Linked DNA regions of Homo sapiens: regions 2, 3, 4 and 5 are each linked to region 1. Evidence: fine-mapped expression QTL. A gene starts in region 1. Each other region holds a variant in brackets. All regions are shown on one strand. Distances are between the middles of the regions.

Region 1 (4,507 bases):
GTGACTCGGAGCAAATTAGCAGGTACAGGGACTGTTTTAGGCAATCATTTGCTAGGAATGGCTATCAAGTGAAGGTCTTGCTGATCCGTCCTAAAAAACAAAGGACAAAAACCTATGAGTAGCAGACAAAAGCATTTATTAAATAATAAATGGTGGGCCCTATTTCAACAACAATCTGAAGAGTATCATCTCTTCTCAAGATACCACAGCACAACAACGTTCACAACCATAACTGAAGTATAAATTTATGTTTCTTCTAATAAGGTAAATACATAGAATATTTTGAAACTGCATCTAAAACTCTTACCTCAAAAAAAGGAAAGAAAGAAAGAGAAAGAAAGAAAAGAACACACACTTCTTCCCCTAGGGTCCAACCAAAAGAGCGAAATTAATCCATCCGCATTCCAAAACAATTAATTACTTAAGAAATCCAACCAGCACACATCTAAGGCGAAGCTGCTTCTTTGGTAGTTTTTTATTCTACAGAGTGCTACCACTGTACAAACAGTCAAGCGTTTTGGTTGGCAGACAATAATAAAATAAGCTTTATTTCCTTTTCTTCTTCCCTTAGCAAAACTCCAGTCTGTCATCACCTCTGACATGCGCCAAGAACTACCAGGAATGATGAAGTATATTTCAAATAAACTTTCCTATTAAAGTGAGTCCTTGTGGTTAACATCATACCAAAATGCTTTACATTTTATCCAGCAAAACCTTTACACACCGTAAAAAAAGAAATCTTAAGACACGAGCTCGTATCTGTATTTAATAATAAACTCTTATCTTGGCCGTACTTACCAAATCGTAGGCTTTTACTATTTATAAGCCTTTGAAAAAACTTTATGCCTTTCTTAAGTACCATCAAAATTTTCAATCAGGATTTCATGCGATCAATTCGCACCACAGTGAGAGATCAAACGCTAAACTCCTATAAATAGGGGTGTTATGAGTGAGAGGGATACACTGCGCTGCCAACGCAACTGCGTCTTCGAGGGGGCAGGGGCGCTCCTGGTACACGTACAGTAGGAGCTCACATTCAGCAAAACCAGGGAGCCAAGGATCAGGTGACTTCACACTACAGACACTTTCAGAGTGATCAGGCCTTACTATCGTCCAAGTGACTCGTAAACGGCTCATAACCCCAGTTTGACACGAAAATCTAGACTTGCACCCTAGCCACGCACAACCCGCGCGAATGGGTTCGGGAGCCGAGGAGCCCCGAAACGCGAGCCCGGGGACAGAGCCCTGGCCTGCGGACTGCGGTTCCCTCCAGGAAGGGTGTCTAAGGAGCTTTCGGACCCGGCAGCAAGGTGTCTGCTCCCCGCGCGACCTCCTCCTCCGCGGGGCCCATCATGCCCTGGCCACCCCTTCCTCCCTGTCCGCGTAAGGGACAGCGAACGCCCACCAGCTAACGGGTCGCCCCGCCGCGTCCGGAGCTCGCCGGACGGAGCGGAGCCGCAGCCGACCTCCCCGCGCCCCGGGCAGGCGGCCACGGCTCAAGGCCGCCCCCTAAGGTCGGGGCGGACACGGCGGCAGCCACGCGGCGGGCTGGCGGGCAGGGGGCCGGGCCGGTCGCAGACGCGCGCGCCACTGGTTCTCCCAGCAGCTACTGGAGCCGCGGCCCACGAGCCGCCCTTTCAGGCCGCGCGCTGCGGGAGCGCGGGGCGCGGCTGAGGCTAGGCCCGGCGGGCAGGCGCGGCGGCGGGAGGAGACCTGAACCAGCCGCGGACTCCGACCCCGCCGCCTGCGGCCGGTGCCCGCGAGCCCGAGCAGCGAGCGTCTCTCCCCATCAGGGCCCCGCGGCCTCTGCCTCGCTGGCCCGTACCTAGGGAGGTCGTGGACGAGACGTGGTTAACCGCGGCGCTTGGGTCGCTGGTCCGTCGCCGGCGCCACAGCCCCTGGTGCGGTTGCTGCCCTCGCGCTGCCTCGTCCCCCTCCGCCATCTTGTACCGATTTAAAATTAACTCCCCACTGACGTCAAACGCCGCCGCCGCTTTATCAACCTCCCGGGAGCCGGCGGGGTGGCCGGCGGGTCCTAGCGCCGCTCTCCGCCTGTATCTCCTCGCCCTCCGCCTGTATCTCCTCGCCCTCCGCCTGTATCTCCTCGCCCTCCCTCCGCCCCCGCCCCGCCCATCGCTCGCTCGCTCCGCCCTCGCCCTGCCCGCCTGCAGATCCGTCTCCCCGGCTCCAAGTTTCTGGTTGGACTGGGGCGGGGGTGTCCCTGCCGCCGCCGTCTCACACCCCCACCTCCCTGAGCTCAGCACCACACCCCCTTAGCGCTGGGCCAGGCTCTGCAAACGCAGAAGGGAGCTCCAGAGAACTAAGTCCCTCCCTCCCAATTCGCTTTACATCTCTAATCGTTGATTCGTGCGTCCTGCACGTGAGGTGGCTTTCGCACCCCTTCTCTCCTTTTCATCGCCCCCTCCTCATCACAGCCATTCCCCTCCTCTCTCCCCATCCACCCCCCAAGTTGTTGCCAGTGCCCTGCTTTTCCTCTTGATCTTTTCTTTCCTCACCCAAGTCCCTACTGTTGCTTCCCCTCCCCCCCACCATCCTAAGGTTTGTTTGCATTCGCTCCCCATCTACTTATGAGACCTTCCCCCATCTTCTCAACTGTGTATACCCTGGCCCTGTGCTCCTAGCACCTTGCAGAGGCATGCCAGAAAGCACTCTAATCGGAAAATGAATCGTGGCAGGTTCTTACCTAATTGTGATGAACCTTCTTCTGGGGATCCAGTGACATCCAGTAGAAAGTTCAGGTCACTTTTTAAATTACAAGTCAGCCCGTGGAGGCGTCTGTGAAACATGATCCCTTTGGATTTTTACCATACTGCCAGCTGCATTAGAAATTCCTCTTCTCCAGTAAAAACAGATGTCCGGGTGTACAAACAGCTGTTTTGTCCAGGTCTTTTCATAAGTCTAAAATTCACAGCATGCACAATCTCTAGAAAAGCACTGGTGTTATTAAAGCTTTCAAAATACCATTCTAGGTAGGGCATGGTGGCTCACGCCTCCCGGGTTCAAGCAATTCTCTGCCTCAGCCTCCGGAGTAGCTGGGATTACAGTCCCCCGCCACCACACCCTGCTAATTTTTGTATTTTTATAGACACGGGATTTCACCATCTTGGCCAGGCTGGTCTTGAGCTACTGACCTCGTGATCCACCCGCCTCAGCCTCCCAAAGTGCTGGGATTACAGGCGTGAGCCACTGCGCCCGGCCCATCCAAATATATTTCAACAGAATATGGAGTTTGTCATCATTGTCACATAAATCTAGGAGAATAACTATATACGTGTTCTTGGCAATATTCTTTGAGTTACTAAGATTCTAGTTCTGGGACTTGAACCACCTCCACAATCTAAAGTACAGTTACCCTTCCCCCTCGTTCATATTGATGGCAGGATCTTTATCAACTTGTTAAGTGATATTCCTCTTACGTCCTTGTGATATATGATTTGGAGAGCTCACTTTGTCAAGACATTTTCTGTTTTATCATTGGCCTGAAAAACGTAGTATTGAAAAGGAAGAAAAAGAAGAAGCAGAAGCAGAAGAAGGAGGAGGAGGAGGAGAAGAAGGGCAAAAAAATCTTCACGAGGATTGTTCTACAAAGATTTATTTACTGTCATTTACTCACTAAAAAACATTTGCTTAGGCACATAGAAAAAAGAAACCATTTACAAACAGCACAGCATAGGCCATTTGCTAAATTAAGGTTGATACAGTCAGTGACAACAAAAAGCTACCTGAATCCTTACCAAAGTGCAGTGTTCACCTAAGCCAAATCACCCTCTATGCTTAGTATAGGCAGTCCTTTGGAAGATATTGAATATCTTACATGTAATAAAAGACCTTATGGTTTCCCTCACTGTGCCTTCGATTTTAAGGACTTCAATTCTATCTACTAATCTAGGCTGCTACCCCATGTGTTTCGTGTTTTGCTTTGCTTTTCTCTTTTCTTTTCTTTTTTTTTTCCTTGCCTATGTTCTTCTCTTTTTGGTGTTCTGCCTATCTTGGCTCCCAAACCCACTCTCTCCCCCATCTGTGGTTACTATGCCTGAATCAAGAGAGGTCAAACGCTTATTTAAAAAAAAAAAAAAAAGGCTGGGTGTGGTGGCTCATGCCTGTAATCCCAGCACTTTGGGAGGCCGAGGTGGGGCGATCACCTGAGGTCAGCAGTTCAAGACTAGCCTGGCCAACATGGTGAAACCCCATCTCCACAAAAATACCAAAATTAACTTGGCATGATGGCGGGTGCCTGTAATCCCAGCTACTCGGGAGGCTGAGGTGGGAGAATCACTTGAACCTGGGAGGTGGAGGTTGCCGTGAGCTGAGATCGTGCCATTGCACTCCAGCCTGGATGACAGCGTGAGACTCCATCTCAAAAAAAAAAAAAAATAGGCTGACCCTGGGTACACTGCCTGTGAGTTAGCCCTACTCCGCAAGGAGCAATACCATTCAAAAAAGACTGCTGCTTAACACCACCAGCTCAAAAAAAAAAAGAATTAAT
Region 2 (4,507 bases), 31 kb before region 1:
CTCATGATAGTGAATAAGTCTCACGAAATTTGATGATTTTATAAGAGGTTTCCCTGCACAAGCTCTCTTCTCATCTGCCACCATGTGAGATGTGCCTTTCACCTTCCGCCATGATTGTGAGACCTCCCCAGCCACGTGAAACTTTGATTCCATTAAACCTCTTTCTTTTGTAAATTGCCCAGTCTCAAGTATGTCTTTATTACCAGCATGAAAATGGACTCATACACCATTATACATACAGATAAACAATAATACTAAATATGGCCTCTATCTCAATGAAGTCTTAACTTCATTGAGAATGTTCATGTCAACAGCACCTGTTTCTGAGCCCTGTATTATTCTGTAAATAACTTTTCCAACTGTATGCACACATAAACTAAAGAGGGGAAAAATCAATTTCACCTGATACTTCAAATCCCAATTTTCCCTGTAAGCATCACCTAGAAAATTCACAAACATTACTCTACTTTACAAACATTAAAAACATATATTAAAATTGTTCATGTGGCTGGGTGCAGTGGGTGTAATCCCAACACTTTGGGAGGCCGAGGCAGGCAGATCACCTGAGGTCAGGAGTTCAAGACCAGCCTGACCAACATGGGGAAACCCCGTCTCTACTAAAAATACAAAAATTAGCTGGGCATGGTAGCGGGCGCCTGTAGTCCCAGCTACTTGGGAGGCTGAGACAGGAGAATCGCTTGAACCTGGGAGGCAGAGGTTGCAGTGAGCTGAGATTGCACCACTGCATTCCAGCCTGGGCAACAGAGTGAGTCTCAGTCTCAAAAAACAAACAAAAAAAAATTATTCATGTTATTTTTCATTCTGAAACTTAAAGGGGAAAATTAGGGTTCTAACAAGTTTCCAAAAATGATACTTACAATGAGTCCCTAATTTAATAACAGTAACCTAGTACTACTACAGCCTCCTCATTAAAGCAAAGCACAGGATTAATGTTTCATTAAAGAAGAGTCAGTGAGATGCATTTATATCTCAGAATTTCATCTCCCACTGGAGCTCTTTCTCACCAAACACTACAGCTGTTATAGCTCCCGAAAACAGCCATATAAACCCTTCCTTTGTTCACCACAACACATTAAAATAAGGTAACCTTTGCAGACATAACTTTACTGAATAGTGACGAAGAAGTACAGAGAATGTAAATAGCAGAGATAAACTTCCAAAGTCTAGGTTTCTGTTCTTCTTTAAAAAAAACACCTAGCTTCAGAGGACACATACCTTGTCTGACTTTCTTCTCTACCAACTGCTTGATCCCACGTAGCAACTAGTTACTCCTGGGGACCTTATCTTCTCCCACATCAAAATTTCTAAGAGATCCCCTCCTTGAGCCTGTCTACTAAGTGTCAGTTTCCACTCTAAGGACACATACGGTATCCACTGTTTTCAATGCAATCAATGACTGTCCTACTCTGAGGAGAAAGCCAGTCCACTAAGGCGTGGTACATTATTAGTGAACAGTTCAGTAATACCTTATCCACATAACCAATATTCACAGAGCAAAGATTATATAACTACATTAGTGGATTTTTAATCTTATTACCAAAAGAAGCATCTCACTTATCTGATTTGCAAAGACTATTAGAGCCTCTACCTCCACATCACGAGGCACCTTTAACTGTATATAGCAAAGTCAACAGCACTATTTCAAAATGTGCTGAAAACAATGACAATGCATTATAAAGAGCAAGCCACTTCAAAGGAGAATCTTTGAAAGTAAAAGCAATCAATATTTAGTTAAAGGGGACATTATCACTGCCTGTATCAATGGTATATAGCAATAGTCAGGTATGCTATTTGAATGCATGCAAAAAGTGAACTTTCCAGGAAAAGTTGCAATACAGTTAAATTCTAAATTAACGTCTCATTAGGTAGGTCCAGATAAATAACAAAACAGGATGCAAACGGTATAAGTTTCTAAGCTTAATTAGTGGTTTAAGACCATGAAGTAGGGAGCAAACTGCCTCGATGCATGTCACTTAACTTCTCTGCACCTGTTTTCTCATCTGGAAAATGGGTGTGTGTCAAACAGGCATAGCATTACCTAACTCATAGGGTTGTCATCAGGATTCAATGAGTTGAAATATGTATGCTACGCAGTAAGCACCATAGGTGTAAGTTAACAGTAATTTCAAAATAACCAATCCAACAGGAGAAGCTTTTATTTTCCCCTTGAAATGCCAAAATGCTATGGTGATTTTCACTTGACCAGTGTAGCTGCGTACTGACACTGCCATCCACCCATCTGCTCTGGCACAGACTTGCTGGCTGTCCTTGACATA[T/C]AGAGATACGTCTACGTGTCTTTTACTTACCCCTAAATCTAATCAATAACCACCTTCTTAATTTGTCTTCATTTCTGAATCTCTATTGATAATATTCCTGCACTTGTCACTGCCACAGTACCTCACACTGTAGCATCTAACTGGTTTCCCTTCATTAATACTCTTGTCCTCTTACCCAATCCAATCTAATCTCCACAGAGTAGCAACTAAATAATATAGTTACATGTAAAGTTGACCAGGTTACCCTCCTTAAAATCACTGTTACAGAGGACTAATGACTAAAATCCTACACATGCTCTATAAGGTCCCGTACTCACCGCCAATCTCTGTTGCCTCTTTTGGTGCTATTCTTCTCTTTAAACCAGCGGTCCCCAACCTTCTTGGTACCAGGGTCTGGTTTCATGAAAGACAAGTTTTCCACAGAAGGGGGAGCAGTGGTTTCAGGATAAAACTGTTCCATCTCAGATCATCAGGCATTAGTTAGATTCTCATAAGGAGCACACAACCCAGATCCCTCACACGTGCAGTTCACAATAAGGTTCGCGCTCCTATGAGAATCTGATGTCACCATGGGTCTGACAGGAGGCGAAGCTCAGGCAGTAATGCTCGCTCGCCTGCTACTCCCCTCTTGCTGTGCGGCCCAGTTCCTAACAGGCCACGGACGAGTACCAGTCCACGGCCCTAGGGTTGGGAACCCCAGGTTTAAACTAGGTAGCCAAACTAACCTTTCATCAGATCCTCATGCTGCTAAGCTCTTTCTAGACTCTGCTTTAATATTCCTCTGCCTAGAGTACTCTTTCCTTTGTTGTTTCCTAATAAATTCACACTTACTCCTTAAATCTCAGCTTAAAAGACACTTTCCAGGAACAAGAATCTTCCCTGAGGCTTCCAACCAAGTTTAGTCATTCTATACTCCCCAAATTTTAATCTATCACTTGAATATTTATGTAAGTACTTATTTATTAAATGTCTCCCCTCTTGGATTGCCAATTTACCACTTAGTTTCCCATCATAAGCAGAAAATAGACAAACAAAAGAAGAAAGCCCTTAAATACCTTACCATGGCTTCTATAGTCGTATGCGATCTGGGCCCAGCCTCCTCTCCATAGCAGAGGGCCTTATAAAGCACATGTCATCTTACAACACACTCCTATTCATTCCCAAAGCCTGGACAATCTGGCCTTCTTGCTGTTCCCTGATGAAGCTAACCCTGTTTCCCACCTTAGAATTTTTGTCCTGTGTTGTCCCCTATCTGGAATGCTCTGTCCCTAGAAATTCACATGGCTTATGTCTCCATCATCCAGCTCTTCAGCTCAAATGTTATCTCCTCAGCATGGCCCTCCCTGACCACTCAATCTAAATCACAGATCCCTTTCCTTAACACTTTAATGAAACAGGTTTATTCATAGTTTTTTTCAATTCCTAAAACAACCTTTTTTCATTCGTTTAAATGTGTACCTGATATCTCCCACTCCACAGAATGAGTGTGCCACTAAAGTAAGGATCCCAATCACCCTGTTAACCATTCTCTACCAGCACCTACAACAGTGCCTGACACCTAGCCTAGCAGGTTCCTTGTAAATATTTCCTGAATGAATGAAATTTAAGCATTTTACTCAGGAGTCTTACATCTGCCCTTACCTTTTTTTTTTTTTTTTTTTTAAGGCAGAGCGCTCTGTCACCCAGGCTGGAGTGCAGTGGTGAGATCTCGACTCACTGCAACCTCTGCCTCCTGGGTTCAAGCCATTCTCCTGTCTCAGCCTCCAGAGTAGCTGGAACAACAGATGCCCAATGCCTCGCCAAGCTAATTTTTGTATTTTTAGTAGAGACAAGGTTTCCCCATGTTGGCCAGGCTGGACTCAAACTCCTGACCTCAGGTGATCCACCCATCTCAGCCTCCCAAAGTACTAGGATTACAGGCATGAGCCACTATGCCTGGCCCTGCCCTTACCTAGTTTATAAGCAAATATGATAATCAAATAGCTTGGGGAAATACCTCCGACAACTCAAGAGTATTAAGTATACGTAACACAAAAATTCCATAAAAATTATGAAGCTTGGCTAGGCGCGGTGGCTCACGCCTGTAATCCCAACAATTTGGGAGGCTGAGGAGGGCGGATCACCTAAAGTCAGGAGTTTAAGGCCAGCCTGACCAACATGGAGAAACCCCATCTCTACTAAAAATACAAAATTAGCCAGGAGTGGTGTTG
Region 3 (4,507 bases), 82 kb before region 1:
CCCTCCCCTAAGCCCTTTCATGTGTATCTCTAGGCAGTTTGGACCTATTCAGCTGATACATTTGGCTGCAGATTTCACGATCCTAAAAGGATATAAAAGTTGTATTTCACTGAGTACATTAAGGGCAGCTCAATTCCTCGGTCTAACTTCCAGCAAAATGTAAATCTGAAAGACAGGAGTTCCTAGGATCTAAGACTTCAGTAGAGAAGGTAAGGGAGCAATTCTCTGTGCTGCCTGGGAAACCCCCAATCTAGCTTTGACAGGAACCAATAACTGGAAGACTCCCCAAAGTCGCATTCTCTTTATGGCAGAGGCTCCCAACAGAATCCAAGTACAATAGTCATTTGATGAGTAATCTCTGGCCAAGTGAGAAGATGGCTACCAGATGCACAGCAACTCAAGCTAATTTTCATCCTCACTCCACGACTATCACACGAATGGAAAAAACCTGAGATGCGCAGATCCATTCTGGTCAAGTTAGAGGAAAGGAGGGAATCCAGGACATGAATGTTTAGGCTAAAGCTTAAAAGTGTGAAATGGACTTAAATCCTGTAGAGAATTGTCTTCTTTGAGTAAAGCACTCTTTTCTGACAAGAAATGTAAGAAAGCCAATGGTCTAGATTTTATAACTTTTTAAAAGTAAGCTGTCTTTAATTTCAGAAAATCTGCTATTATACAACAAATTATTTTTTCATTCATAAAAAACAGTCCACAGCATTCATAAAACAGGGTGGCAGAAGAAATAAAAAGACACTTTTCAGGTGGATTCTTTAAGAACAGATAAGTTAGCAATTTAATACAGATGAAAACAAATACAATCCATATAAAAACAGAATCTGAATGGGAGTGGGAGCGAAGATGTATCAACCAAAGTAAATTCAGAGTTTTCACACATGCAACTCAACACCTGCATTCTCTTCGCTTAAAAAGCAAACTAAGGGCCGGGCGCGGTGGCTCACGCCTGTAATCCCAACACTTTGGGAGGCCAAGGCAGGCGGATCACAAGGTCAGGCGATTGAGACCATCCTGGCTAAAACGGTGAAACCCCATCTCTACTTAAAATAGAAAACATTAGCCGGGAATGGTGGCACGCACCTGTAGTCCCAGCTACTCAGGAGGCTGAGGCGGGAGAATCACTTGAACCCAGGAGGTGGAGGTTGCAGTGAGCCAAGATCGCACCACTGCACTCCAGCCTGGGTGACAGAGAGAGACTCCGTCTCAAAAAAGAAACAAACAAAACTAGGTACTTTAATCGGTGTTCACAAAGAAGACCACAAAAGTACTGAAAAAATGCTAGCCTTACATATACCACCAAAAAAAAAAAAAGAGAGAGAAAGAAATTAACAATCCCCATCTACAACTAGGCTAATCATAGGTTTTCCCTTATAGAGACAGACACAGAAAAGTAACTTTTTACAAGCTTAGTTTTGAGGTACAATGCCTTAGAGCTCTCAACTGGGGTGTTTCCTGCTCATGCTCTTTTCACTATAAACAAATGTGGTTTATGAAGTGGAATACATACTTGAAAAATTCCTTAAAAAAGAATCACAAGTTTCATTTTATATATACAACAAATTTTTAATTATGTACTGAAAATAAATTACAGGAAATAACTTTAAAATGCAACAGAGGACAAAGTCACAATAAACATTCCCATTGAATTCCCTTGGTGGGCGGGGGGGGGGTGAGATTGCAGTGCTCAAGATAAATATCACAAATATATCAAAAACTTCAAATTGTCTATGCATTCACACACTGACATGAGCCACAAACATTCCTTTCACAGGGAC[A/T]GTACTTATTTAGCCTACCACAGGACCAGATTTTGCCATAAACTACAAAACTTTTAATACAAAATCGTATTTATATATTTATAAGTCATATACATGCCCTATCTGTGATTTTAGAAAATAAAAGCTACACACTGTACAGACACTCTTAACTCATAGCTGTAGGCAACATTTTTGGATGGAATTTCTTCCCCAATAAAATTAATGGCATATTTTATATACATGAAGGCTAAACTGCAAAAAGACAGTTCAGTTTCCCAGATATGCATCTCCTTTTAGGGCAAGTTTATAAATTTAAAAAGGCAAGACAAATGTACACCTCAGAATTACTTTCTTAGCTACAAGAGTTGCCATGTAATTTCTGTGAAGTTTCTGATACATGCATTGATGTAATACTGGTATTGAAGGCAGTAAAGCAATATATACTTTTAATGTAGTGGCTCAATAAAGGCTTCATTGTCTTTCCAATCTGGTTCTTGAAACAGTGATTCATAAATTCTCTAAAAATTAAAATTTCAATGGGACACTGTGTTAAAGAGACTCTAAATAGATTTCTGAAAATATTTCCCTGAAATATCCTTTTACATAAGACAAATTCACTAACATTAGATTAAGTAAAAAGAAATAAAAGAGTTAAACATGGCACAAAGGTGCATGATTAACCAATGCTCCTCAGTCCATCTGCATGTCTTAGGAGCCATTAAAAGAATGCTTAAAACTAACAAACAATCTTCACACTCTGTGGCAGCCATCTGTGAAGCCAGTTACACTAAACTACTTCTACAGTTGATTGTAAACTTTGGTTTATTTTTATTTGAGTTCTCATTGTACAGCAAGCATGAAAAAAAAAGAGAGTGGAGTCCGTGAGGAGATGAACTGTCAGTCTGTCTTTAATCTGGCATGATGAGACACCTGGTCAGTCAGGCCTGCTTTGATAGAGTTTGTTACAGACTGCCTTATGTTTTCCTCCATCAAATTATCACCCAGGGGCTTCAATACCTGTGGTATGAGAAATGTGCAAAACAAACAAAAACATGAGGTAAAAAAAGAGTTACATATAAAAATAGATATAAAAATTCAATTCAAAGCAATGATGAAAATAACCAGGAATATGGGAAATAAAAAGATGCTTCTCTCAAAAAAACTTATGATGCTACTAGACATTTTATAATGCAACAAAAATTACTTTCCTCTTATTCAAACCATTTACAATTCCTATGAGATGGATGTGCAATTCCATACCCTATATGCAGCATCAAATCTGGTATGTATACAGCATTTATGCAGACCGGCCCAGACGGTCCTGCTTATTGTCCTACATGTGTAAGTGTGAACACTTCAGATAGAGAAAAAGGTTAAAAATACTGTCTAATTTTTCTTCTTGTTATTGTTGGATGACAGTCTCTGTCGCTGTGCTGATGAAAGAGCACGGTGAACCATTCGACGTCTAGTAACTTCAAACAGTTTGGAAAACACCTAAAACATGAAGTGATTTGTTAGGAGAATGAATCAGAGTGCCTCGAAGCTAAAGAGTTTAAGACTACAAGAATTTGAGACTGTAGGTTTCTCACCTTCCTGGGACTCCTCTGAAGCAAAAGAAAAGAGAAATGCAAAGAAATTTAGACAAGGTTTGTTGACACAGCACAGATCTCTGACTAGCTGATTACCTTACCTAAACTATACTGAAAATGATTTTATACACTTTAGATTCTTCCATTTAATTGTTTTGTAATAATGGTACCTCCAAAATCCTAGAATCAATGCTGTTTAAGAGATGAATATTTCTCAAAAGAAGATATTGTACAATTATTGAAAATTATATTGCAGAAAATGATCCAAAATTTTAAAATAGCTAATTTTTTCTTAAAAGTGAAGTTGCGATAGCTTTGCATCCATCTTCTATTAGAAGATATCAAAGAAACATCAAGTAGTGAGATTGAGATAAAAATTTAAATAGAATAAATATCCAAACATAAACTTCCCAATCGGATCTGAATAGAGCATTTCTCTAAAGAGTAAACACAAAATCCAAATTAATATAGTGGGTCACTTTATAAAATAACATCATTACAAGAAAAGTCAATATCCAATCAACTTTCTTCAAAAAAAATGGTCTGCTTCTTCGGTCTTCAAGTTTATAGCCAAAACAAACATGGACCTGCATATCCTAGATCTTCAAAATAAGCTCAATATTTCATGAGCCCAAAAATGGCATCTCAAATGCCTATTATAGCGTTCGTCATTAATAACCGTAGCTTTCATTCTGGTCCTTGACATGATGTTCAAGTATTTCACGAAGATCATCTTAATGACATCCATAAGCGGTCCACAGGTAATTCCAGCACACCGGAGGCAGATACACAAAATGGCTTTCCTTAGCAGATACTTGCAGGCAAGAGTTCACAGCCTGGGGCTTTGAATTCTGGTTCGAGGTAAAAGATTACGACGGAGCATGGTTCTCTGTTCATGGCGCTTTGCTTTACTAATTAATATTTCCAAAACACAAAGGTCAAAGTTTCCTTGGTAAGAAATCCCTACGGGATTGTTCCTCATAGTACATCAGGAAATCACTACCATCTTCATGGAAGGCAATGAAGACCTGTCTACCATCCAGCATTTCTCCTGCATTGCTGCTTGCCAATATTAGGAAGAAACTTCTTTTGCTTTCCGAAAGCACCACTTCCAAACTTCTTTTCCTTACCTTGAAAATCATTCATTGT
Region 4 (4,507 bases), 120 kb before region 1:
TAGAATACATGGTTATGGAAATGAAAGGGAGGAAGGAGCCCCAATTATAATCATCTCCAGTGACCTACTTAGAGAATTCGTGTTTTCCATCCTCCAACTCTAGGCTCTGTATACCTAGAGGTCCCAGTTCCCAGGAGGGCAACATCTCCACCAAAGGTGACAGCAAGAGTCGAACTTTAAACTACAAATAGCCTGTCACGCTAGCCTCCTTATGTTAAGAGATGACCAGGAAGGAAAGGAGGTGTAATTCTCACAAGGGTAGTCGACTCTTACCATGAAGAGATAGGCTACTTTCACACAGTGAGGACAGAGAAGAATGTGTTTGACATGCAAGTGATCCACTGGGTGGCTCTTGGTACCTTCTTTTCCAATTTTAATAATAAATGGGCAAGTGCAACAGCCACAGCCTGAAGAGGGCATGGTGACCTGGAGTTTGGAGCTCTCAAGAGTGAGAGTCTGGGTCACCTCACCAGATAAGCCACCTAGATGAGGAAAGGAGCAGACCAAGGCTGAGGGGCATCTACAATGGGTGGTAGAAAAAGGAGACAATGAGCACCTCTGCAGGTGTGAGACCAGCCACAGCTTCAGGGCATGTTGTTTGTCCTTTTAACCCTCTTATCATAATTTTCCCCAAAAAAAGAGATTAAACAGGTTCCTGGATGAACTTTCCCAGATGGAGCAGACTTACTATGCAGAGCAAACGGATCCAAAAAACCAAAAGATAGACTCTAGTGGATGATGTGGTAGACCATTCAGATGTCCCTGTCAGGACCAAGACACTCATTCCATCATCTTCCAGGAATGTCAGCTGCTGATGGCTTATAGGAATTGTGTTGGCCAAGGGGGTCCCCTACCCAGGATTTGTGCTAGGCCAAAGGTTATGTTCTTTCCCCACTGGAGTTCACATATAATGATTGTTGGCTGCAAAGGTATGAAGGCATGGCCCCTTTGATTCAGTTCAGGACATGTTTAAAGGGTCATCCCAGCTGCAAAGCTCCCTGCAGATTGGCTGAGACCTCTGTTACTACTGCATCATAGTTCACTTCCTCTTCCTGCCCAGCCTTGGGTGCCTCAAGGCTCATAGCTGTTGCTCCTCAAAAAGTACCTGAGTGCAAATGTCTGTCTCAGAGGGCAATTCCTAGGGAAACCAATCTAGGAATCCTAACGTTTTCAGAAAAAAAAAAAAAAAAAAAAATCACATGATCATCATAAAATATTTCACTTTTTAAGCCTTATCTGTCTTGTACACAGTTAAATACACCATAGTTTCTGAAAGGCTGAAAAACAGTGCCTAGGAATATCACTTTTGGGAAATAGACTTGAATTCTTTAATTTACATAAGCAACACATGCACAGGGTTTGTGAAAATCTATTCAGATTTGTATGTATTATATTGAGTTCTGTGGTCACGTGCCTCATCCAATATTTGGCTTGTAATAAATTCTCAGAATGATAGCTAATGCCATTTTCATCATTGTCTACATCACCATCACTTGGCATCTTTTTTGCTTGCCTCGTTACCTGATCCTCATCACCTTCTCTACTCTCCTGCTGCCACACAGCATTCAACTGGGCATTCTGCTCCCACTCCAGCTATCCCAAGGGTCAGATCTGTCCTCCTACCCCATGGCTCATGGTTCGCCTCAATCCCACTTTACCCTGCAAATAAGATGAGGCATTATGCCTTGCTGAGATGACACAATTGCCTCCGTTAGTACCACAAAATATAAACCCCCCCAAAAAGCTTAACATGATTTTAAAAAACAAAATCCAAGTAAGCAATGATTTGCCAAGAGGAATGTGAAGTTTCAAATTTATTTAGTTTCCACAACTCTTTGTAAATCTCATTTGTAAACTTTCAAAAAATATATAGTCATCCCTTGGTATGCAGAGGATGGTTCCATGAACCCCATGTATACCAAAATCTGAGTCTTGCAGCCTGGCCCAGCAGAATTCACATATAAGAAAAATTGGCCCTCTGGATAGGTGGGTTTCACTACCCAAGAATACTGTATTTTCCATCCACATTTGGTTTAGAAAAACCCAAGTATAAGTGGACTCTTGCAGTTCAAACCCATGTTGTTCAAGGGTCAACTCTACTTTATTACTTTATTGCAGGTTTTGTGGGGTTTTTTTTGTTTTGGGTTTTTTTGTTTTTTTTTTTTGAGGCAGAGTCTTGCTCTGTTGCCCAGGCTGGAGTGAAGTGGTGTAGTCTCGGCCCACTGCAACCTCCGCCTCCCAGGTTCAAGCGATTCTCCTGCCTCAGCCTCCCGAGTAGCTGGGATTACAGGCGCCTGCCACCATACCTGGCTAATTTTAGTATTTTCAGTAGAGACAGGGTTTCACCATGTTGGCCAGGCTGTTCTGGAACTCCTGACCTCAGGTGATCCACCTGCCTTGGCCTCCCAAAGTGCTGGAATTACAGGCATGAGCCACTGCTCCCAGCCTATTGCAGTTTCTTAAAAGGCAATTCATTTTAAGATAGAGCTATAGTTAATAATATGGAAATATCTTTAATACATATTAATTGGAAAAGCAGATTGGAGAACAATATGTTTAGTATAATTCCATTATGTATATCTTTTACATTGTTTACATCTGTCATACCCATATTTATTTT[G/T]GTTCATTTGCTCTTTCAGAGACCTACATATATACGTTAAAATGGCCTAATATTAAAATGCTTTTTCCCATTTCTCCTTATTTTTTTGCTTGAAAATGTTGATATTATTTTCAACATTTGGCATTTAGCCATTTTTTTAGTCAGTCTTCCTGAATTTTTAAATTTTAGTTACTCTCTTATATATGTCATAAAATTGGGTTTTGTCTTGTGATATATCTAAAAGTCTTTTTGTTTAATTGATAAAAGCAATGTGTCTCATTTTTATGTTTTTGTTTTTATTGCCTTTGTAAATATTTTATTATATAGAATCTGCTGTATTTGTGTTGTATGTTTCTTCTCATAATTAAAAACATGTGTGTTTTTATCCTAGAGGCTACTTTTATAATTCAGACTTCATCAGATACCCTATAACTCTATATTCGTAAGATCTATCAGTTCCCTCCTGTGATCAGTAAAAATAATGACACAGGATTTTCATCTTTGTCACTTTGCAAGCCGGGGACCTCTAGCCAGTGACACCCTGCCTGGGCCTTGCTTAACCACACTACCTGCTGCAGGAGATAGCCCTCCCACTTGGCCTGCCTGGGGCCAGCCCCGACTTGCGCACTTCTTGAGTTCTCCAGTTCTTGTCCTGTGCCAAGAAGAATGAGGATGTGCTGACAATCAGAGTGAGCAAGGTGGGGAGTTTTATTGAGTGATGAAACAGCTTTCAATGGAGAGGGGACATGGCGGCGGGGGGGGGGGTCTCCCTACCTGAAGGCGAGAGAGTCCCCTCAATGTGGCTGAGTCCGGGGCTTTTATGGGTTCAGAATGGGGGAGGGGCAGGCCATAGGTAATATTGGAAAAGGCAACATTTGATTGGTTAAAAGGCATTGTTCAGAAAGAATCAATCGGGAAAGGGAGAGCAAACAAGAACAGAAGTTCTCACTCTGGGTTGTGGGTTTCATCCTGGACCAGCAGCAGTCCAGTCTTTCAGCCCTCAGGCTGTTTTTGGCTTGAAGGTTGGGTTTCACTGGGGACCCACCCTTGTCTGCCTAGGCATTTGGCTGCCTCCTGTTGCTGCTATCAATAATCATTCTATTTCCTCCCTTTCTCTACTCCTGATCACTCTTTTATTAGTGTTTTTTTTGTTTGTTTGTTTGTTTTGTTTCTTGGTTTTTTTTTCAGACAGGGTCTCCTTATGTCACCCAGGTTGGAGTACAGTGGCACAGTCACGGCTCACTGCAGCTTCCACCTCCCAGACCCAAGCGATCCTCCCACCTCAGGCTTCCGGAAAGCTGGGGCTAGAGGCACATACCACTACGCCTGACTAGTTTTTGTATTTTTTGTAGAGACAGGGTTTCGCCATGTTGCCCAGGCTGGTCTGGAACTCCTAGGCTCAAGCAGTCTGCCTGCCTCAGCCTCCCAAAGTTTTGGGATTACACATGTGAACCACTACACCTGACACTCTTTTAGTGTTTACCTTAGAATTGTTACATACACTTTTACTACTTAATTTGTCAGTTTTAAATAGCATCCTTTATCCCAGGGGGTCAACAAATTTATTTTGTAAAAGATTAAATAGTAAATATTTTAGGCTTTGTGATTCAATCTTTATCACGACAACTTAACTGCCGTTATAGCATGAAAGCAGCCATAAACAATCTGTAACAAATGAACATGGCTGTGTTCCAATAAAACTTTATTTATACAAAAACAGGTGGTGGGCTAGATTAAGCCTGTGAGCGGTAACTTGCCCATCCCTGCTTTAATGTAGCAATTATAGTAAGCACTTATATAACTTTTCACCTTCTTTCTCTTGTTACTTTCCAACTTTTGTTAGTTACATATGGTTCATATCATCAAGGAAAATAATATTTACATTCTCTTATGTCACCCTAATTTCCA
Region 5 (4,507 bases), 51 kb after region 1:
GCAAGTCCCTTCATCTCAATTCCTTCAGTTTTAAAATATGGTTTATAAAATGTTCTTGCTGAAAATGCGGGATAAGCTGGAAATAAATCTGCCAGTTTAAGGTATTATTAGGCATAGATAGCCAATTTCCCAAGAATTAACTTCAAATATATTTAACACCATAAAATATTATACAAATATTGCAGCTTTCTTGCATGATTCAGAAGGCAGTTAAGTGAGTGCTCCAGGCTCTTCATGATAAGTATCATTTACCATTACAACATAAATTTGTGCAAATACCAGTTTATAGACAGTTTCATTTGATAGAATGGTACATAAGCCACTTTTAAATAATACTGTATCATTTTGGTATCGGCACCCTGCAGAAAAATCTAATGAGATGATCACCAAGCCAAGCTTTAAGGTTTCAGGAGTTAAATGGATACTTACGGATGTAAAGGTTTGTTTCAGCTCTGTCAGCATAATCACTGTTTACTGGTCCGGAGTGGGTTTGGAAGGGTGGTGGTAAGCATTATGATGTGTCGTCAGTGACTGACATCCAAATCATTGTTTTCAGGCCAGTGCATCAAATATTTGGCCTTGTAAACTTCTTAGTTACAGGGAGGTTGGGCAGCCTTGGGGATTAGTTTCATCCAAAGAGAATTTGAAAGGCTGTCCTTGACTGCAAGCCTGAAAATTCTTCTTTACCACGGTGACATAGAAACTGCATTCGAGGGAAAACATCAGTGCTCCTTCAGACTTTCTAGAAACTATACATTGTGATGGAGGTTACTTCATAAAGAAGTGGCCTGGGAAATGAACGAAAACTAAACACTGAGTCTACTCTAATTTTACCCACCATTAAGAGATGCTAATTTCGTTCCCGGGTGGGACCAAAAAGAAAAGGTGGAAACTATTCTTGGTGCAGACTATGCATTAAAATCTCTAGATTAGCCAGGAATGATGAAACACACCTGTAGTCCCAGCTGCTCGGGAGGCTGAGGTGGGAGGATTTCTTGAGCTCAGGAGTTCAAGACCAGCCTGGGCAACATAGCGAGATCCCCCCCATCTCCAAAAACAAAAAAATCTCTAGAGAAATAAAACTAGTTTGAATAGAGAGAGGAGGCCAGAGAATTGAATGAATGAGAGATTCAAACTGAGAAAGGACTGGAAATGAGACCAAGAAATAAAAAATCATGGTAGAAGGGAAAAAGAAGCTACTGGAGAGACTTTGGAAGAGAAGATTTCCCCTATGCAATGTTGAAGGAAGCTTTGTAAAGCTTTCGCATTTTTGACATCATGTCCCAAAAAAAAAAAGCACTGGCAGTGATCCAGGCGGTAACAGTGATCTGGGAGGTGCTAGAGAGAACCAGAAGTCAAGAGTAGCAGCAGTGACAGAGAGTGCCATTGCACTACTGCTTTGAAGGTACAGTCTGTGCCGGGCCTTACTTCTCCAGTGAGGTCCCTGGAGCAGCAGCCTCACTGGGAGCTGGTTTGACGGGAAGAATCCCAGCCCTTAGAGGCCTACTGAATCCGAATCTGCATTTCAACAGGATCCCCAGGAAACTGGATGCACTTTCGACTGAGCCTTCACCTTTTTTAGGGCTCTTGCAACCCTATCTCCTTCTTCTATTTTTTTTTTTAAATTAAGACAAGGTCTCGCTATGTTGCCCAGGTTGGTCTCAAACTCCTGGGCTCAAGCATTCCTCCCGCCAGGGCCTCCCAAAGTGCTGGAGTTACAGGCATGAGGCACAGTGCCCACCCTCCTTCTTCTATTTTTTCTTTTTCTAGAGACAGAGTTTCCCTCTGTTGCCCAGGCTGGAGTGCAATGGCGTGATCTTGTCTCACTGCAACCTCCGCCTGCTGGGTTCAAGCGACTCTCCTGCCTCAGCTTCCTGAGTAGCTGGGATTACAGGCGCCCGCCACCACGTCACGCTAATTTTTATATTTTTAATGGAGACGGGGGTTTCACCATGTTGGTCAGGCTGGTCTCAAACTCCTGACCTCAAGTAATTCACCCACCTTGGCCTCCCAAAGTGCTGGGATTACAGGCGTGAGCCACACTGCCCGGCCACCAGTTTTTCTTCTTTTCCCCTTCCCTTTTCATCATCTTCTTCCTCAAATTCCAAAAAATGGTCACGTGTGACAATCAATATGGTGGGTGTTTACATCTCTTCCTGGTCCTAATTCAAAGCCCAAGCTAGCCTCAATTCATAAACACGTGAACAAAACAGTTGCGCTGGGCCCCAGAAAGCCATCAGGCAAGATGAACCCTCCCCCATAACATCTATATTTGTGTCACTTATTTATACAGAGGCTTAAGTATACACAGTGCTCTGTAGGGGAACATGCCAAGAAAAGAATACAATCCCTGCTCTTTACAAAATATTTTTCTTTTTCTCTCATAACCCTAGGGAATAGCCAGGGTGGGGATGGAATTACGAAATCTTTGAACCAAAATATATAAAATGAATAGAAGGAAGC[C/T]GTAGGTATTTTTTAGAGCCTCCAGACCTCTAAGAAAACAAGACTTTCCCAAACAATATGCATGAGCAGATTTTCGCTTCATGTGAAAACAAGCTCAGTTATCTGAAGGAAACTCAAACACACACACACACACACACACACACACACACACACACACACCAGAAAAGACATTTTAAAGGCATTTTGTCAAAGATATTTATAAAAGTGCATTTTAAAAGGCTGGAGTGAAGTGGTGCGATCTCGGCTCACTGCAACCTCTGCCTTCTGGGTTCAAGCGATTCTCCTGCCTCAGCCTCCAGAGTAGCTGGGATTATAGGCATGTGTCATCATGCCCCACTAATTTTTGTATTTTTAGTAGAGATGAGGTTTTGCCATGTTGCCCAGGCTGGTCTCAAACTCCTGGCCTCAAGCGATCTGCACGCCTCGGCCTCCCAAAGTGCTGGGATTATAGGCGTGAGCCACCACGTCTGGCCTGGAATAATTTTAAATTTATAAAAAAGTTGCAGAGATAGCTCAATGAGCTCCCATATAGTTGCCCCCCAGCCTCTCCTAATGTTAACATCTTATTCAACCAGGGTACATTTGTCTAAACTAAGAAATCAGTGTCGTTAGCTGGGTACAGTGGCTCATGCCTATCATCCCAGCACTTTGGGAGGCCGAGGTGGGTGGATCACCTGAGGTCAGGAGTTCCAGACCAGCCAGGCCAACATGTTGAAACCCCGTCTCTACTAAAAATACACAAATTAGCTGGATGTGGTGGCGGGCACCTGTAATCCCAGCTACTCAGGAGGCTGAGGCAGGAGAATCACTAGGACCCGGGAGGCAGAGGTTGCAGTGAGCCAAGATCATACCATTGCACTCCAGCCTGGGGGACAAAGCGAGACTCCGTCTCAAAAAAAAAGAGAAAGAAAAAGTAATCAATATTGTTACAATACTATTAACTACAGACTCTTATTCGGACGGCACCAGTTTTTCCACTAATGTTCTTTAGTCCAGGATTCCATGTTGCATTGAACATTAATACATTTCAGTAAAACAATACAGTGAAGTCACAGGATAACACATGATAATTGATTATCAGATGCAGATGGTGAAAAGAGCTTTGCCTCAGGTCAGGAGGGCCTAACACTCATCTCAGCAGTGAAGGGACGCAAGTCGCGCCCGCAGGGGTGTGAGGTTGTTTCACACAGCGTTGGGGCAGGCATTCCAGCTCTCAGTAAGAACTAATATGGTTCAATGTACGCTAACTCCCCCAAGGAATCTGCAGTTCACATTAGGCAAAGGGTATAAAGCTCTAATTATGAACTCCGCAGCCAGAGTGGACCATGAAGTTGAACATTTCCACAAAGAAGAGGAGAGACTTACTTTCCCATGCTCTGAAGTCACACTTCCTGCCCTGTACTCTAGGAGCGATGCGAAGCCTCAGGACTCAAGCTTATTTCTGAAGCAAGGTCTCAAGTCAAAAAAAAGAAAAAGAAACATTTAGACTTGCCCCTTCTGAGGAGTCGCTATTCTGTGCCTCTCTAGGGGCCACCTTTGCTCAGAGGCTCCGTTAGGCTGGTGAAGCAGGGGGCTACAGTGGGAGGGAGAAAGGCTGAACATTCCTCAGCGTCGGCGTCGGCGTCCATGGGGGGCTCTGAGCGATGGCCTTCTCCGCTTGCAAGGTCATTGGTCTTTGAGCCGGACTCGCTGCCTAAGGCAGGCTAAGACTGGCATATTAGCATTCCATCTACATTTAACTTGGAATAAATTCTAGATTTAGCCCTGCAGCTAGGATGGAATTTTTCCCCTTCCGCTGCCCTCCCGCTTCCTGCCTTAGAGCTGGGTCTGGGGTGAGGCAGATGAGGGGCTAACAGCGTAACATGCAGAGAGGCTCTTGCACCACCGTGAGAGTGAGCGCATGTCTCCTACAATTTTTCCACTCTAGGTCCTTTGCTTGTCACACAGCGTGGTTACCTCTTCCTCACCTGCAGCTTCAGCCCCACTGTGTTGTCATAATGACTTAGCACCTACAAAATGAAAAGAGGGCCAAAAAAACCCCCCA

Direction of the effects. Alleles are on the strand shown, and positions count from the first base shown. SD is a standard deviation of normalised expression in the study named. Not every link is listed here.
In carriers of allele T in region 3, the expression in prefrontal cortex of the gene that starts at base 1,956 in region 1 tends to be higher than with A alone (small effect, 0.32 SD a copy in CommonMind).

Evidence for each region. PIP is the estimated chance that this variant, and not a neighbour inherited with it, causes the effect. A credible set is the group of variants that fine-mapping cannot tell apart.
Region 2: its variant is the best candidate, but not a certain one, in a credible set for the expression of ATL2 in whole blood (TOPMed, PIP 0.58).
Region 3: its variant is the best candidate, but not a certain one, in a credible set for the expression of ATL2 in prefrontal cortex (CommonMind, PIP 0.58).
Region 4: its variant is the best candidate, but not a certain one, in a credible set for the expression of ATL2 in whole blood (INTERVAL, PIP 0.73).
Region 5: its variant is the best candidate, but not a certain one, in a credible set for the expression of ATL2 in tibial nerve (GTEx, PIP 0.53).

Annotation. Positions count from the first base shown.
Region 1 is chr2:38,375,318-38,379,824 of GRCh38, forward strand. It overlaps ATL2 (atlastin GTPase 2), which reads right to left and starts at 1,956. Exons shown (of 13, transcript NM_001135673.4): 1 at 1,826-1,956. The coding sequence starts at 1,943. RefSeq lists enhancers at 1,048-1,549, 1,550-2,049, 1,876-2,125 and silencers at 1,376-1,875, 2,096-2,255, 2,326-2,375.
Region 2 is chr2:38,343,829-38,348,335 of GRCh38, forward strand. The region is part of intron 1 of ATL2 (atlastin GTPase 2); the gene reads right to left. Among named protein-coding and RNA genes, the nearest start is that of ATL2, 31 kb to the right of the region's middle. RefSeq lists a silencer at 1,265-1,465. The variant T/C (reference allele first, on the strand shown) is at 2,298.
Region 3 is chr2:38,293,328-38,297,834 of GRCh38, forward strand. ATL2 (atlastin GTPase 2) reads right to left here. Exons shown (of 13, transcript NM_001135673.4): 13 at 627-2,786. The coding sequence ends at 2,667. Among named protein-coding and RNA genes, the nearest start is that of ATL2, 82 kb to the right of the region's middle. The variant A/T (reference allele first, on the strand shown) is at 1,791.
Region 4 is chr2:38,251,100-38,255,606 of GRCh38, forward strand. No RefSeq gene overlaps it. Among named protein-coding and RNA genes, the nearest start is that of CYP1B1-AS1, 120 kb to the left of the region's middle. The variant G/T (reference allele first, on the strand shown) is at 2,621.
Region 5 is chr2:38,426,748-38,431,254 of GRCh38, forward strand. No RefSeq gene overlaps it. Among named protein-coding and RNA genes, the nearest start is that of LINC01883, 2.3 kb to the right of the region's middle. The variant C/T (reference allele first, on the strand shown) is at 2,464.